2 separate regions of the Homo sapiens genome follow, and region 1 is linked to region 2. Evidence: fine-mapped QTL for protein levels in blood plasma. Region 2 holds a variant in brackets. A gene starts in the other region. All regions are shown on their reverse strands. Region 1 holds the start of CCL11 (C-C motif chemokine ligand 11). Region 2 overlaps ACKR2 (atypical chemokine receptor 2).

Evidence for each region. A credible set is the group of variants that fine-mapping cannot tell apart. PIP is the chance, under the fine-mapping model, that this variant and not a neighbour inherited with it causes the effect. Protein levels are from antibody-based Olink assays in UK Biobank. Linkage for the fine-mapping came from a reference panel and not from the study's own genotypes, which makes the PIPs less certain.
Region 1: CCL11 starts here. The variant in region 2 is the best candidate, but not a certain one, in a credible set for the plasma level of the CCL11 protein (UK Biobank, PIP 0.60).

The regions. Positions count from the first base shown.
Region 1 is chr17:34,281,989-34,290,311 of GRCh38, reverse strand. CCL11 (C-C motif chemokine ligand 11) reads right to left here and starts at 4,570. Exons shown (of 3, transcript NM_002986.3): 1 at 4,428-4,570; 2 at 3,105-3,216; 3 at 1,978-2,727. The coding sequence starts at 4,503. The coding sequence ends at 2,622.
Region 2 is chr3:42,831,702-42,840,040 of GRCh38, reverse strand. All of the region lies in intron 2 of ACKR2 (atypical chemokine receptor 2), which reads right to left. It overlaps LOC124909373 (a long non-coding RNA gene), which reads left to right. Exons shown (of 2, transcript XR_007095895.1): 2 at 4,082-6,310. Among named protein-coding and RNA genes, the nearest start is that of ACKR2, 26 kb to the right of the region's middle. RefSeq lists a silencer at 3,130-3,424 and an enhancer at 3,130-3,424. The variant G/AACAG (reference allele first, on the strand shown) is at 4,838.

The sequences.
Region 1 (8,323 bases), not on the chromosome of region 2:
GAGCAAATTCTGTTCAGTCCTTCACAAACAGAGGGCACCTCTTCCCTCTACTCCCCTTCTTGATCTCCTCGTGAAGACTGACCTGAAACCTGAGGGTCTACTGATCCCAGTGAGCTATTCTGTGGCCATCCCATGCCTCCTGGACATGCTGACCTCTGGAGGTACATCCTGATTGATGTTTAGGGCTAAAGTCTGCTAGGCTATAGGAGAGGCAGAGAGGTTTTTTGTACTCAGAGTGAGGGCCAGTGATTGCTCTGAGTGGGAGCCCTTCTGTAGTAGATACAAAAAGCTCTCTGATGGTTCTAGGGATCCATGCTTCTACTTGCGGCTCTCACAGAGAAATCTTCTAGAAATAGAGTAAGTGTGCCAGTTATCCTGGCCCCTGTCCGACTTGGGCTTGTGAGTGTGGAACCCTCTGACAACATTCCCTCCCTCAATGGGTGGAGGTAGTGATGCTTTCCAAGAGGTAGTGCTCTCAGAACAGGAGATCTTGGTGGGTCATTGGTCAGATCCCTTAAAAGATATTAATATACCCCTATTATGGATGGGGTAACTAAAGCCAAAAGTAACACAGTGACAGAGACCAGTTCTCTGTCTGTGATGAAACTGAGGTCATCTGCCTCCTAGATCAGTGCCCTTCCTAATGTCTCATTCTGTTCTTTATATTGCCTTGTGCCATTGCCACCACACAGTCCAAGGGGGACAGCCTTATGAATGGTGCCTCTGGGAGCTTTGCATGCAGCGACCCTGCTGGGCATGCATGACACAGTAGGCCATTGGCCCTCCAGATCAATGGCCTTAGACCATGCAGAGTTATACCAGCAGGGCACCTGTGACCCTTTTCTACCCTTGGGGACATAGTTGGTCTCTGCGTTCAGGTACATAGGTAATGTGACCAATGGAAACGCAAGCTGATTTTGTATGCTGAAAGGGAATCCTGATTTAAGTTGCTTATACAGGAAGATGAGGTCCTGTCCATTTGATTGAAAGCTCTCAAGCTAGTAAAGTTAAGGTGTGAGTAAACAGTGACAGAGAGAAATTAATTTTCTGGGTCTAAGAAGCTAACCTTTAATTGCAGCTTTGGCATTTAGAAAGTTTCCATGTCATTGGTTCTACTTCTTCAACCACAACATTTGGCATTCCACCCTGCCTCAGCCATTCTTCCAATTATCTTCTCCCCTCCCAACTACCAATGCCCCAGTTCCATATCTTCCATACACTGCAATAGTGAGCTAAGTGCTTCTCCCTTCTCCTCCCAATTCAGCCCATGGCCACCTGGCTGCCCTTCCTGAAGCCCCTCATAGTGTGGTCATGGCACTTCTCTCCACTGAATCAAAACTTGCAATGCATTCTATTCCTAGAGTGACCACATGCTCCAGTTTGCTTAGGACAGTGTTAATTTATATCCGTTGTTCCAGAATAATTATGAATAATACCACTTTTCTGCTCTCAAAAGCATCCTAACTGGGCTGGGAAGAACCATATGTTCACCTTACATGGAGCACAAACTCCCCACCTAGACAGCCTGGTCTCAAACTTCTTTCCAAATTTCCCCACCATTTCACACATACTCCAACACTGACATCTTTTGATGGGCTCCCACCCAACTGGGTAAATGCAGCATGATCATTCCTACTTCTTGGATTTTGCCCAAGCAACACCCCTTCTCCTCTACCTAGACTGAAATACCTCCAGCAGAGCCTCTCCACTTTGTGCATGCACAAGACCCACTTTAAGCTCCACCACACCTGTAAAACCTGCACCTAAACCTCTGGTCAAAGGTCACCTAGCCTTCCTCTGATTTCCAGTGTCTGTCATGTCTGCCTAGTCTGGGTTGGAAGACCGAGGAGCAGGGTCGGGTAGAGGGAGATACCACAGGGCTGTTAAAATAGGTCCCAGGAGAGGCAAGTATGAGGTGGGGAGGAAAGGAATGGTGGCAAAGCTCCAGATATTTTCGTGGCTGAAGTTTGGGGTCTGGGAAATACTGTTGAAAATGGGAATAGAGGGCTGGAATGGGTTTGTCAGTTTCACCCTGCATTTCAATGAAGACCAGCTAAGCCAAAAACTCATTTCCCAGGGACATAGTTCCCACCCCCTTAACCAAGCCCCTCTTGGCCACAGCCATCTTTGTCCCCCTCAGCTCAGTGTGGATTTCCCACAAAAAAATTACAACTAGTGACTATAATAAAATATGCACATACTTTATGTATTCCTAAAACAACATTTACTTCCATTTAATGAGTCACACTTTGGGTTCACAAGAACAATGACATTTTCATACTGATCATCTTTGCCAGGACCTTTACAAGATTCCAGGGAGGAAGAGAGGAGAGGGGGAACATTGCCCACACGTGACAGGGGATCGAATTGGGGCTCCCAGGGGGTAAAGAATCTGCACAAAGCTTTACAGTTTAAAAATAACTGATATTCATGGAGGATAAGTTTTAAAGCCTCAATAAATTAAATGCAATACGTTTTTTTTTTAAAAAAAAAAATATATATATATAATAAAACCCATGCCCTTTGGACTGATAATGAGGTTACCTCAGAATGCATTGTAAGAAGGGAAAACAAATTAGGCAACACTCAGGCTCTGGTTTGGTTTCAAAAATGGTGATTATTTATGGCTTTGGAGTTGGAGATTTTTGGTCCAGATACTTCATGGAATCCTGCACCCACTTCTTCTTGGGGTCGGCACAGATATCCTTGGCCAGTTTGGTCTTGAAGCTGTGGGAGATACAGGATGCAATTGGAAGGATTGTTTTTGAAAATTCTGCCCATTTGACCCTAAATATTTAAGGACCATCTGCCCCTGGACAAAGGGTTGCTACGGAGAGGAGGAAGGATGAGACTCTTGGGTTAGTTGCTGCTCTTAAAGGCCCAGTAAAACCATCTTTGCTCTTGACTTGAAGAAATTGATATGACTACAGCAATCTCCCAGGCAGGGAGCTGGGAGTGAACACTCACTTGTGAAAATTAATGAATTGGACCATAGAGGTCAAACTATCAGAGTCTATGACTCCCAGCAACTGTGACACAGTTCTTGACTCTGTGCCCTAGACATTATTTTTTTGTCTAGGGGAGGGTGAACTTTATTTACTTACATCACAGCTTTCTGGGGACATTTGCCACTGGTGATTCTCCTGTAGCTCTCTAGTCGCTGAAGGGGTATCTTCCTATTGGCCAGGTTAAAGCAGCAGGTGGTTGGGACAGAAGCTGAATTTTGGGGAAAAAAAATGAACAGAGAAAAAAATGAGCCACATGATGATACATAGACATTTCCAAGCATGACTTTGTAAAGGAAGTTAGGAGAAAGCAAGGAATTGCGAGAGGTGGAGGGAGAATCCCTCTGCTCTGAAGTCTTATGTGTCTGGAGGATGCTGTCCTGTGTCTTCAGCATCCTCCCCTGTGCACTGAGGACTCATCATTACTGTAGAGTGTATGGACAAAGCTTGGTCAATGTGACAAATGCTAGCTCTGTCATTATAAAGACCTACGTGGCCATGTGATGGTCATGGTAATTTTCACCAAATATTCTCCATCCTCTGTTTTGAGACACAAGGTAGACTTGCATTTCTTGGCCACTTTTGTTTGGTTGGAGGCATTAATTAGTTTTGATCAATAAAGAAGGAGACAAAGTGATGGGTGTCATTTTTGAGCCACAGTGCATTGCCTATGCAAGACTCCTGAGAGCTTTCTTCTGCTTTATCACAGTATCCATCAATGTTCCCCCACATGGGCAACTTCTCCATCAGTCTAGAATCCTGAGTATAAAATGCAGAAGCCTGAGCCCATACATTATAGATATTTAGTACAAGTGAGAAAGTAACTTTTGTTAATTTAGTTAATTCTGTTAAGTCATTGATAATTTAGAACTGTTTGTTACCATGCTATGCACTGGCTCAGTGGGACCGATACACTCAGTAAATTTGTCACCAGAGTATGGGAAAATGAGTTATGGAACAAATCTCCTAGATAACTTTCCCAAAGAGTGTCAAAATAAGTCACCTCAAGAGATCCCCCTGGGACCTCGTTCTTCTCTTAGCCACTGTCTCTGAAAGCTGTCCTGGAGTCGAATTAACATACTGAGCTTCTAATCAACAGATTTTCCTTCTCTCCCACTGCCAAAAATGCCCACCATGCCCACAGTAAGACAGAGCCATTCCCCATTCCCAAACACTGTAAGGATAGCTGGGTATGGATGCACCCAGCAACCCTCTTGAATGTGGGGAAAAGACTCGGGAGCTTTCTAGTTCTGGCTCTTCCAGTGACTGGATGTGAGGTTGAGGCATTTCTTGTCCACCCACAAAACCTGTTTCCCTATTTTTCAAATGGAGAATTTGCAGTGAGTCTGTAAAGATTCTTGCTGACCTAGTAGCTCTGGAGGTGGTTACCTTACCTTTCCTGTAAGGAGTTGGGGGGCTTACCTGGCCCAGCGAGCCCCTGGGGGCTGAAGGCAGCTGCTATGAGCAGCAGCCACAGAAGTGCTGCGGAGACCTTCATGTTGGAGGCTGAAGGTGTGAGCTTTGGCGTGAGAGGTGGTGGTTTCTGGGTTGGTCTCAGCCTCTCTGCTCCTCTGGCCCATCTGCCTGCCTTTTATAGGGAGCAGACAGTGTGGGAGATTCCAGGGAAGCCTTTGCCCATGCGGGGGTCACGATGAAGGGATTCCTGATTGCTGACCAGATTCCAGATCCTAGGAAGTCAAGCAGAACAGAAGAGAGGCAAGCTAGTAGGAGGGACTTGGTACATTTTTTAATCCATCTGGATCTTGCCTTGGAAAAGGAGGGGAATATGTGGTTATGAAATGAAGTTAAACATCTGTAGTGGGGGAAGAGAGCAAGAAAACCAAGGCCCTAGGGGATGAGTTGAAATGAAACACCTGTAGTTGGGGAAAGGAGCAAGGAAACCAAAGGCCTGGGGGATGAGTCGATCTAAGAACCTTCCTTGATTCCTGTGTTCACATGGTGGTCTTGAGGATTTTGGAGACCAGGAAGGAGCCCCAAAACTTCCATTAGGCTCCCACCCAGATGCAGAGAGAGCTCAGCAGCCCTGCACATAGTTGCATCTCTGAACCAGGAAGGACAACACACCACAGCTTTGCTGCTGTGTTTCAATGTAATGATCACAGAATCTTAGTCCCTGAAATTTTAGCATGATAGGACATCAGAACTGGATAGTTTCTATTAATCTTGACTTCTGAGGCACTTTAAAACCATTTGCTTAGCTGCTAAAGCCCTTTTCCAAATGGAATTAAAACAAACCCCAACTCATCAAATACACTGTAGTGAAGGGGATTTGTTTGAAATAGAATAGGCAGCCTCTCGTGCCCTTATTCCCCAGGGAACACATTTAGGGAACACATTTGGAAAATCAATCATCTAGTTCCCCCCTCACTCTCTGAGCACACATTGCAGACAAGGTATCTGATGGCTAAAAATATCAAAGAGAGAGGCAACACAAGAACCTATACATATCCCTTTGTTCATAACACTAGGCACCCTAGTTGGAGAGGGTATAAGGGAGGCAAAGTCTTTAATGGAGTCACTGCAGCGGATTACAGCATTGAATACTGGTGTGGAGGTACTGCAAACCTGTTTCCTGTTTTTTCCTGCACACTCTCATATCAAATTGATTGATTGGTACAGTAGCACAAACAAGAATGTTAAAGATTCTGAGGAGTTGACTTGCGTTAGTTAAATACTGTGTTGTGGTTGACTGGTGATGTCTGTCATGGGCACAGGATTAGAGACAGCTCTTGCTGTCCTGCAAAGTCTCTAAGTGCCCATCTAGGATAATTGGTCTATAATTACCTAAAAAGTTAACTATAATTACCAAATAGAGGCCAAAAATGTGGAGTCTTCCCTGTTCTTTCCTGCTCCATTCCTGGTGGGTTAGTCTAATGTAGAACCTGAATTCAGGATATCTGCATTTGGATGATGGCTCTGTGACTGACTAGCTGTGATACCATGGACAACTTACTTAACCACTCTCTGCTAGGGTAAGAGCAGGATACTAATCATGTGTACTTTAGGGAATTGTCGTGTGAATTAAATGAGTTCATGTATCTAAACTGCTTAGAAGAATGACTAAATCACTGTAGGTACTCAGTGAGTAGAAGTTACTGTTTTTTATTATTAGGAAATAGGGCCGGGTACAGTGGCTCACACTTGTAATCCCAGCACTTTGGGAGACTGAGGCAGGCAGATCACTTGAGGTCAGGAGTTCAAGACCAGCCTGGCCAACATGGTGAAAACCTGTCTTTACTAAAAATACAAAAAATTAGCCAGCCATGGTGGATGGTGTTTGTAGTCTCAGCTACTCAGGAAGCTGAGGCATGAGAATTGCTTGAACACAGGAGACAAAGGTTGCAATGGGCAGAGATCATGCCACTGCACTCCAACCTGGGCAACAGAGTGAGACTGTGTCTCAAAAAAAAAAAAAAAAGAAGGGCAGATTGGGAATGCTGGAAAGACCTCAGAGTCTGGATATTTCTCCAAATATTCTTCCAAGTTTTCCCACTGCTTCCAAGTAAAGATATGCTACCGCAGGGATGGTTTCCAAGAATGCCTGAGTTGCACATGTGGCAGATACGAAGTTTTAAAAAATTCTCGGCAGAATAAATTTGGAATATTATTGACCTCAGAGGTGTTTGTCTGACGTGGTTTAATGATTGTTTCTGTAGTAAGAATAATTTCATAACTCTGGCGGGAATTTAAAGGAATTATCAGCAAGCGATTATTCATTTTTGTGTTTTCCTTGAAAAATGGCTTTGGAGTTAATGGGCTTTGGATTTACTCTACACCTGAAAAACCTCAGTGGCTCAGTGGAAATAAATAAAATCAATCTTTAGATATCCAAGCTCTGCAGCTGTTTCATCCAGCTCACTGGCCATCCCTAGCAAGCAGGGGCAGCTTCAAGGGCTTTTTCTCTTTCTTTCTTGGAGGCTTTCTTTTCAGCAATGAAGTAGAGTAGACCAATTTCTTGCCTGTGATTTGGTGCCTGATGAATGAGGGGCCTTGATCAGGAATGATCCTGAGTGATGGGCAGGAAATGGATCCCCCCTTGTGAAAACAAAATATTGACTTCTAAAGAGTTTTTTTTCTTTTTTTTAATTGGAAAAGGTATCTTTTATTTTTATTATTATTCTTTAAGTTCTGAGATACATGTGCAGAGCGTGCAGGTTTGTTACATAGGTATACATGTGCCATGGTGGTTTGCTGCACCCATCAACTCGTCATCTACATTAGGTATTTGTCCTAATGCTCTCCCTCCCCTTGCCTGCCATCCACCGACAGGCCCCAGTGTGTGATGTTCCCCTCCCTGTTTCCATGTGTACTCATTGTTCAACTCCCACTTACGAGTGAGAGCATGCAGTGTTTGGTTTTCTGTTCCTGTGTTAGTTTGCTGAGAGTGATGGCTTCCAGCTTCATCCACGTCCCTGCAACGGACATGAACTCATTCCTTTTTATGGCTGCATAGTATTCCATGGTGTATATATGCCACGTTTTCTTTATCCAGTCTATTATTGATGGGCATTTGGGTTGGTTGAAGTCTTTGCTATTGCAAATAGTGCTGCAGTAAACATAACGTGTACATGTTTCTTTACAATAGAATGATTTATAATCCTTATATACCCGGTAATGGGATTGTTGGGTCAAATGGTATTTCTGATTCTAGATCCTTGAGGAATCACCACACTGTCTTCCACAACGGTTGAACTAATTTATACTCCTCCCACCAACAGTGTAAAAGTGTTCCTATTTCTCTACATCCTTTCCAGCATCTGTTGTTTCCTGACTTTTTAATGATTGACATTCTAACTGGCATGTGATGGTATCTCATTGTGGTTATGATTTGCATTTCTCTAATGACCAGTGATGATGAGCTTTTTTTCATATGTTTGTTGATCACATAAATGTCTTCTTTTGAGAAGTGTCTGTTCATATCCTTCACTCACTTTTTGATGGGATTTTTTTTTCTTGTAAATGTTTTTAAGGTCCTTGTAGATTCTGGATATTAGCCCTTTGTTGGGTGGATAGATTGCAAAAATTTTGTCCCATTCTGTAGGTTGCCTGTTCACTCTGACGATAGTTTCTTTTGCTGTGAAGAAGCTCTTTAGTTTAATTAGATCCCGCTTGTCAATTTTGGCTTTTGTTGCCATTGCTTTTGGTGTTTTAGTCATGAAGACTTTGCTCATGCTTATCTCCTGAATGGTATTGCCTGGGTTTTCTTCTAGGGTTTTTATGGTTTTATGTCTTGCCTTTAAGTCTTTAATCCATCTTGAGTTAATTTTTGTATAAGGTGTAAGGAAGGGGTCCAGTTT
Region 2 (8,339 bases):
GTGATCCACCCGCCTCGGCTTCCCAAAGTGCTGGGATTACAGGCGTGAGCCACTGCGCCCGGCCTGCTCTATTTCATTTCTGAGCCCAGGATCTGCACCCACACCCAAAATTAGCTGCGACTATCAGAGACTCCCAAGACAGACCAGACATCTTGCTATTATATTTTAAGCCTTTACATGCACTTCTACATTTGTCCACTGGATGGGACTGGTTCACATTCTAAACACCGCAGCCCAACAGGGCAGAGTCAGAACTTCACTCAGAGAGCTGGAGCATCCGATCATCCTCTCCTGCCTCTCCCATCTCACTCAGATTTATTTTTATCTTTTCAAATACAGCCTGATGTACCAAAAAGTTCTCACTTTGTGCGCCTTTCCAGTAACCTACCACCCTAAGTATGGTAGCAACTCTCCTGACTTCTAACATTACAAGTTAGCTTCTAAAAATGCTAACCGGTCGTATAGAACATATTCTTTTGTGTTGGTTTCATTTGTTCAACATTATGTTTGCGAGATGACGTGCAGTTGCAGTTCATTCATTCTCATTGCTTCAAAGGCTCCATTGGGCAAATATGCAAAAAATGTATTTGTATCCTCATCTATTGCCTTGGCATTTGAGTAGTTTCCAATTTGGGGTTTGCTTTGCTGCTGCACTGTTGATGGGAGTTATCAGCCCTTCAAACCACCCAAGATTGATTCGGAGCTCCAGACTGATGATGCCACACACTCATCAGGAGGATTTGAAAAGAGTTACTACTCACGTAATGAGGCTTTCTGGGGACAGCAGGGCCCACACTCAAGCAAAAGAAGGGGCACGTGGCTCTGGTTTTTATAGTGGCTGGGCAGAGGGCAGGTGCGTCCAGGATGAAGGATCCCTCTCCCACAGGCTGGAGTTTGTGTGGTTTGAACTGCCCGTCTGCACCAAGGAAGGGAGCACCATGAGCTACCTGTAGGCATGTCCAGGTGTGGAGAAAATGAGAAAGGGGAGTGATGGGGCTTGAAAGCTGTCATAGTAAAACATCAAAAATTGAGTCAGACTCTTTATTCCAGAGTTATTACAAATGTGCTGCTATGAGCATTCTTATTCAAGTCTTTTCTGTTGGGTATGTTTCGAGGACGTTTGACTTTGGCAAATACTACCAAACAGTTTTTCAAAGTGTCTGCAGCAAATTACATTCCCTCTAGCAACATTTACAGATGCACCACAGTTTAATCCATTCTGTAGCTGAGGGACATTTGGTTTGTCTCCAGTTTTTTTGTAATCAACAAATAAATCTGCCACAAACATTCACGTGCAGATCTTTGTGTGAACATAGGTTTTCATTTCACTTGGGTAAATACTTAGGAATAGAGTGACTATGTTGAATGGTAAGCGTATACTTAACTGTGTAAGAAACCAGTCAAACTGTTTTTCCAAAAGTGACCATACCATTTTTGCATTTCCACCCACAAAATATGAGAGTTACAATTGTTTCACATTCTCCTAAGTTCTTGGTATGGTCAGTCTTTTTACTTTTAGCCATTATAATGAATGTGAAGTAGTATCTCATTGTGGTTTCAGTTTGCATTTCCTTATGAACTAATGACATTGAACGTATTTTCATATGCTTCCTTGACATCCCTATATCTTCTTCAATGAAAGTGTTTTTTCACATATTTTGCCCATTTTTTACAAAATTGGGCTGTGTGTTTTCTTACTATTGAGTTCAGAGGATTATTTCCATATCCTTTATAAAAAGTCTTTTATCAGATATATGATTTGCAAATATTTTCTCCTAGTCTGTGTCTTGTGTTTTATTCTCTTAGTGTCTTTTGAAGAGCACACATTCTTAATTTTGGTGAAGTCCAAGTAATTGACTTTTTCTTTTATGGATTATGCTTTTGGTGTCTTAACTAAGAAATCTTTGCTTACCCTAATGTCATAAAGATTTTTTTTCTCTTATGTTTTCTCCTAGAAATTTTATAATTTTAGGTTTTACTTTTAGGCCTATGATTGATGAGTCTGTATTAGCAAACCTTGGAAGGCTATTTGAAAGAGGTTTCTGATAATATAAATTTATGTATCTTCAGTGTCCAGTAAACACTGAAAATACATAAAGAGGGTCATATTTCTGTACATAAAGTCAAATGTTAAGGATTTCTGCTAATTCAGAATTTAACTTTCAAAATAAATGGCATGGAAGTCCAGGGAGATGGGGGCTGATTTCCTCTTTGTATACTCCCTTTTATAGATGTATTGCCTACAGCGTATATTTAATAGTGTGACAGTTAATTTTAGATGTCAACTTGACTGAGTTAAGGAATACCTAGAAACCTCATAAAGCATTATTGTGGGGTGTGTTTGTGAAGGTGTTTCCGGAGGTGATCAGCATGAGAGTATGAGTGGACTAATGTGGGCGGGCACCATCCAATCTGCCAGGGACCTGGAGATAACAAAAACAGAGAAAAGGTGATCTGCATCCATCTATCTGCTGGAGCTGGAATACACTCTTAGTCTCCTGTCAGAACTGCAGGCTCCCAGCTGGTCGCAGTGGCTCATGCCTCTAATCCCAACACTTTGGGAGGCTGAGAAGAGAGGACTTCTTAAGCCCAGGAGTTTGAGAACAGCCTGGGCAACACAGTGAGACCCCATCTCTAAATATATATATATTCAAAAATTAGTCAGGCATGGTGGCATGCACCTGTAGTCCCAGCTACTCCGGAGGTTGAGGTGGGAGGATCACTTGAGCCTGTGAGGGTGAAGCTGCAGTGAGCTGAGATTGCACCACTACACTCCAGCCTAGGCGACAGAGTGAAACCCAATCTTCCAAAAAAAAAAACTTCAGGCTCCCCAGCCCCTGGACTCCAGGACTTAATACCAGTGGCCCCCCTGCTTCTCAGGCCTTTGGCCTTAGACTGACAGTTACACCATCCGTTTCCCTGGTTCTCAGGCCTTCGGGGCTTGGATAGAGCCATGTTTCCAGCATCCTAGGGTCTTGCACATTATGTCCCAAGGGTGAAATAAACACAATCAGATAACTTTAAGGAAGATGCCAAATCCTGTGTTACACCAACCATTGAGTTGTCAGACAACCACTGCAAAAGACATTTGAAAGAGAAACACGGTGATCAGAGGTGGGGAAGAAGGACCTTCCTGGTAGGCACCAGTAAACTATGACAGTAAGCAAGATGATGACTTAAGAGTCCAGCAGTCAGTATTAGCCCAGCCCATTTCATACACTAGTCCTGAGGTTATTTATCTGGCATCTCCACACAGTCCTAGGAAACTTATCTGTAGTCTTCACTCAGTCCATCTTGAATGCCACACAGTAACTCCCTTTCCTTTCTTGGCTAAAACTGTCGCAGGGCTTTGGCAGACTCTGAATTGTATTCAAGTTCACCTTGTGCACTGCTGGTTGTGCACCTTGTGGCTTGTCACCCTCCTATCCTCAAGAATGGTCTAGAGCCCCACAGAGTCATGACAATGGTCAACAGAACGCCACAGGGCCCTTTCCATCTGAGTTGTTTCTCTGGATTTCTTTTAATAGACCCTGGTATACTGCTGGAATAGAGGTGCCGTATGGAGTCTAGGGTGGTCTGGGCTGCAAAGGAACACAGAACCTAAGTGAGGACTTGATAATAAGAAAGCAACAGACAAGTAAGAAACCTCTTGGGGTTGGAATGCCAGCTAGATAACCATGTTGATATGGCCTGAGTCCCAGGATCTGGTGGATTGTGGAATTGCAGCTCTAGGGTTCATCTTGATCCTTGGAAGAGATTCAGGGCACTTAAAGCCTTATTACAAAGTTTTATTTAGTTTTGCTGGTGCTACAGTTTTGCTTTTATCTCATCACAACTTTGGAGGTGGGAGAGAGGTGTGGTTTGTAATTTATATATATGTTTGGAAAATTGTTCCATAATACGTGAATTACTCTCAGTTTAGATATGAGATTTTTCTGGGGAGGAATGCATTCCTGGAGCAGTTCTTCTGACTGTAGTAATACCTGCCTTTCTCAGGGGTTGCCTCAGACTACCCAGAGAATAAGCATAACACAACTCAGACCTGGCAGACAGCTTCTAATGCACCAATCATCTCTTCTAGGGTGCTTCTATGATGCTCCTTCACCCAACTGTACCCCATAGTAAGATGCCCAGGCTCGGGTGGGCAGAAGGAGGAAGGAGGGACCTGGGAACCACGAGTCACCCATTTCAGTGGAGGTTGAATACGCAGAATCAGGAAGCACAGAAATCCACACCCATATCATAATGAAATTGCAGCACACCAAAGGCAAAGAGAAGATCTTTAATGCAGCCAAGGAAAAAGCACAGATTACAGAGAGCAGACGCTGAGACTGAGAGTAGACTTCGTAGTGGCCACAGTGGGAGCCGGAAGCCATGGGATACAGTGAGTGTGACTTGGGACTCTTCACCATCAAATTAGAATCAGGAGTTGAAATTGATGGTTGTTCAAGAATCTGCTCACGGTAAAGGGCATTTCCAGATGGGAAACAGAATTTATCACAACACGAAACTCAGGAGAGTGAGACTCAAGGAACTCACTGAAGAACGTACTTCCAGCAGAAGGAGAGTGGTCCTGGAGAAAGGGTGTGATTCTGAGATAGGCAGATGAACAGAGCAGTCAGTGAAGACGTGAGCAACGGAAAGCAACGTGGACTCTAAAGCTCTGTTAACTGGGTGACCCTGGTTATCTGGGTTGCGGGGAGAAAAATTAGAGCCCTCACCAACACCACACAGCAAATAAGCTCTGAATGTTTTAAAGCCTAGAAGATGCTATGGGAGAGCATCTTCATGGGCTCTGGAGATGAAAGGCCTTCTTTAACAAGGTCCTAAATGCCCA[G/AACAG]TGAAGGAAAACATTAAGAAATTCAGGCCGATCGTGCTGGCTCATGCTTGTAATCCCAGCACTTTGGGAGACCGAGTTGGGTGGATCGCTTGAGCCTAGGAGTTCAAGACCAACAAGGCAAAACCCCATCTCTACCAAAAAAGTGCAAAAATTAGCCAAGGGTGGTGGTGCGTGCCTGCAGTTCCAGCTACTCGGGAAGCTGAGGCAGGAGGATCACTTCAACCTGGGAGGCAGAGGCTGCAGTGAGCCGAGATCGGGCCACTGGCACTCCAGCCTGGGTAGCAGAGTGAGAAACTGTCTCAAAAAATAATAATAAAAAAAAAATTTGCCCGGGCACAGTGGCTCATGCCTGTAATCCCAGCACTTTGGGAGGCCAAGGCAGGTGGATCACGAGGTCAAGAGATCGAGACCATCCTGGCCAACATGGTGAAACCCCATCTCTACTAAAAATACAAAAAATTAGCTGGGCATGGTGGTGCGCACCTGTAGTCCCAGCTACTCAGGAGGCTGAGGCAGAAGAATCACTTGAACCCGAGAGGTGGAGGTTGCAGTGAGCCGAGATCACACCATTGTACTGCAGCCTGGCGACAGAGTGAGACTCCATCTCAAAATAAGTAAATAAATAAATTAATTAATTAATTAAAAAATTAAAATAAAAAAAATTACCCAGACATAGTGGCTCGAGTCTATAGTCCTACATATTTGTGGGGCTGAGGTGGGTGGATCACTTGAGCCCAGGATGTCAAGGATGCAGTGAGGCATGATCGTGTGACTGTACTGTAGTCTAAGCAACAGAGTGAGACCCTGTCTTCCCTACCGAAAAAAAAGAAAACACACAACATTTATCCATTAGGTTCTCGTCTTATATGGACACCCAAAACAATTGCATAGTAACATCAAAGATCATTGATCACAGATCACCATAGCGGTATAATAATGATAATGTGGCTGGGCACAGTGGCTCACGCCTGTAATCCCGGTACTTTGGGAGGCCGAGGCAGGTGGATCACCTGAGGTCAGGAGTTCGAGACCAGCCTGACCAACATGGCAAAACCCCATCTCTACTAAAAATACAAAATTAGCCGGGCGTGGAGGCGCATGCCTGTAATCCCAGCTACTCGGGAGGCTGAGCTGAATTGCTTGAACCTAGAAGGTGGAGGTTATGGTGAGCCAAGATCGCACCACTGCACTCCAGCCTGGGCAACAAGAGCGAAACTCTGTCTCAAAAAAAATAAAAATAAAAATAATGAAAATGTTTGAAATATTGCATGAATTACCAAAATGTGACACAGAGACACAAAGTGAACACATCCTGTTGAAAAAATGGCTCTTGTAAGACTTGCTCAACACAGGGTTGAAAATCTGGGTTTCTAAAAAAACACACATAATCACTAATATGTTTATCTGTATCCAATAAAAGAAAATGGCCTTAAAATACAATATTAATATGATCAATAAAGCCACAGAAGTCTGGTTTTGTAATGCAGTTTTTTTTTTAAATGATCTCTCAAATCGTCATTCCCACTAAGTAGTATGTGTGGTCAAATCCTATTCTAGAACTGGGCAGTACAGTAGTCACTAGCCATATTTGGCCATGAAGCACCTGAAATGTGACTAGTCTGAACTGAGAAGTACAAGCATAAAGCACATGTCAGATTTCAAAGACAGTACAAATAACGGAATGTAAAATATCTCATTAATAATTAATAATTGTATAGTGTACACTGCTTGGGTGATGGGTGCACCAAAATCTCAGAAATCACCACTAAAGAACTTATGCATGTAATCAAACACTATCTGTTCCCCCAAAACCTATTGAAATAAAAAATACTTTAAAAAATAAAAAATAAAAATAAACAAAATATCTCATTGTTATGTTGATTACATCTTGAGATAATTTGTTTATATTTTGGGTTAAATAAATACATCATTCAAATTAATTTCACTTGTTTCTCTTTAGGGCTTTAATGTTGACTATTAGAAAATTTAAGGCTGGGCAACTTAGTGAGCCCTCATCTCTACAAAAAAATTTATAAATTAACCCAAGCACAGTAGCTCATGCCTGTAATCCCAGCACTTTGGGAGGCCAAGGCGGGCAGATCGCTTGAGCCCAGGAGTTCAAGACTAGCCTAGGCAATGTGGAGAAACCTCATCTCTACAAAAAACACAAAAATTAGCTGGGTGTGGTGGCACATGCCTGTAGTCCCAGCTACTCGGGAGGCTGAGGTGGGAGGATCACTTAAGCCCAGGAGGCAGAGGTTGTAGTGAGCTGAGATTGTGCCACTGTACTCCAGCCTGGGCAACAGAGTCAGACCCTATCTCAAAAAAATAAAAATAGAAAAATTAGCCAGGTGTGGTGGCATGTGCCTGTAGTCCCAGCTACTCAGGAGGCTAAGGTGGGAGAATCGCTTGAGCCTAGGAAGTTGAGGCTGCAGTGAGCCATGATCATGCCACTACACTCCAGCCTGGTCGACAGTGAGACTCTGTCTCAAAAAAAAAATTAAAATGACACATACGGATCATATGGTGGCTCACCTGTTTTTATTGGACAGCACTGGTCTAGAGTATTTCATTGCTGTGCGTTCCGTATGCGGTGATGGAGTGCCCTAATCTGATAGATGAACTGGTGCAGGTTTTTGCATTTTCTTAATTTGATAGCACTACATTTTCTTTTTCTTTTTCTTTCTTTTTTTTTTATTCTTTTTTTGAGACAGAGTATTGCTCTGTTGCCCAGTCACCCAGGCTGGAGTGCAGTGGCGCAATCTCAGCTCACTGCAACCTCTGCCTCCCCAGTTCAAGTGATTCTTATGCCTCAGCCTCCTGAGTAGCTGGGATTACAGGTGCCCACCACTATACCCAGCCAATTTTTGTATTTTTATTAGAGACAGGTCCTCACTGTGTTGGCCTAGCTGGTCTCAAATTCCTGGACTCAAGTGATCTGCCCACCTCAGCCTCCCAAAGTGCTGGGATTACAGGCATGAGCCACCACGCCTAGCCTGATGGCAATGAATTTCTAACAATTAAGGGTCATGACATCTTAAGAGATGGAGGCTTTCTGGTATTAGGCTGTTCTTGGTGCAGTTGCCACTAGAGGAAAGGGGAGGGTCATCTCTATCTTTCCAAAAATCTCAGTCTCCAAAGTTTTGTGTTTCATTTCACTACCATTAAACCATACAATGATTTAATACCAATTCTAAGTACAAAATTCATAGACATAATTTCTGGCTGAATAAATTGGTTCTGCCTCTTTAAATTTCTAGTGATATTAAGGCCCATGTATTTCCCTATGTTCACTTGATTTTGAAACTATCAAACCTTTCACCTACTAGTAATTGCATTTTTGGCATCATGGTCCATGAAAGGAGAGTCAGGAGACAGTAACCACAGTAAGTTGAACAGGGAAAGTTTAATATAAAGATGTATTGACTATTTGAAGAGAAGTAACTACTACAAGAGAATTGAAGAGAACTCTAAAGAACATCCTAGGCAGAGGGAGACTACT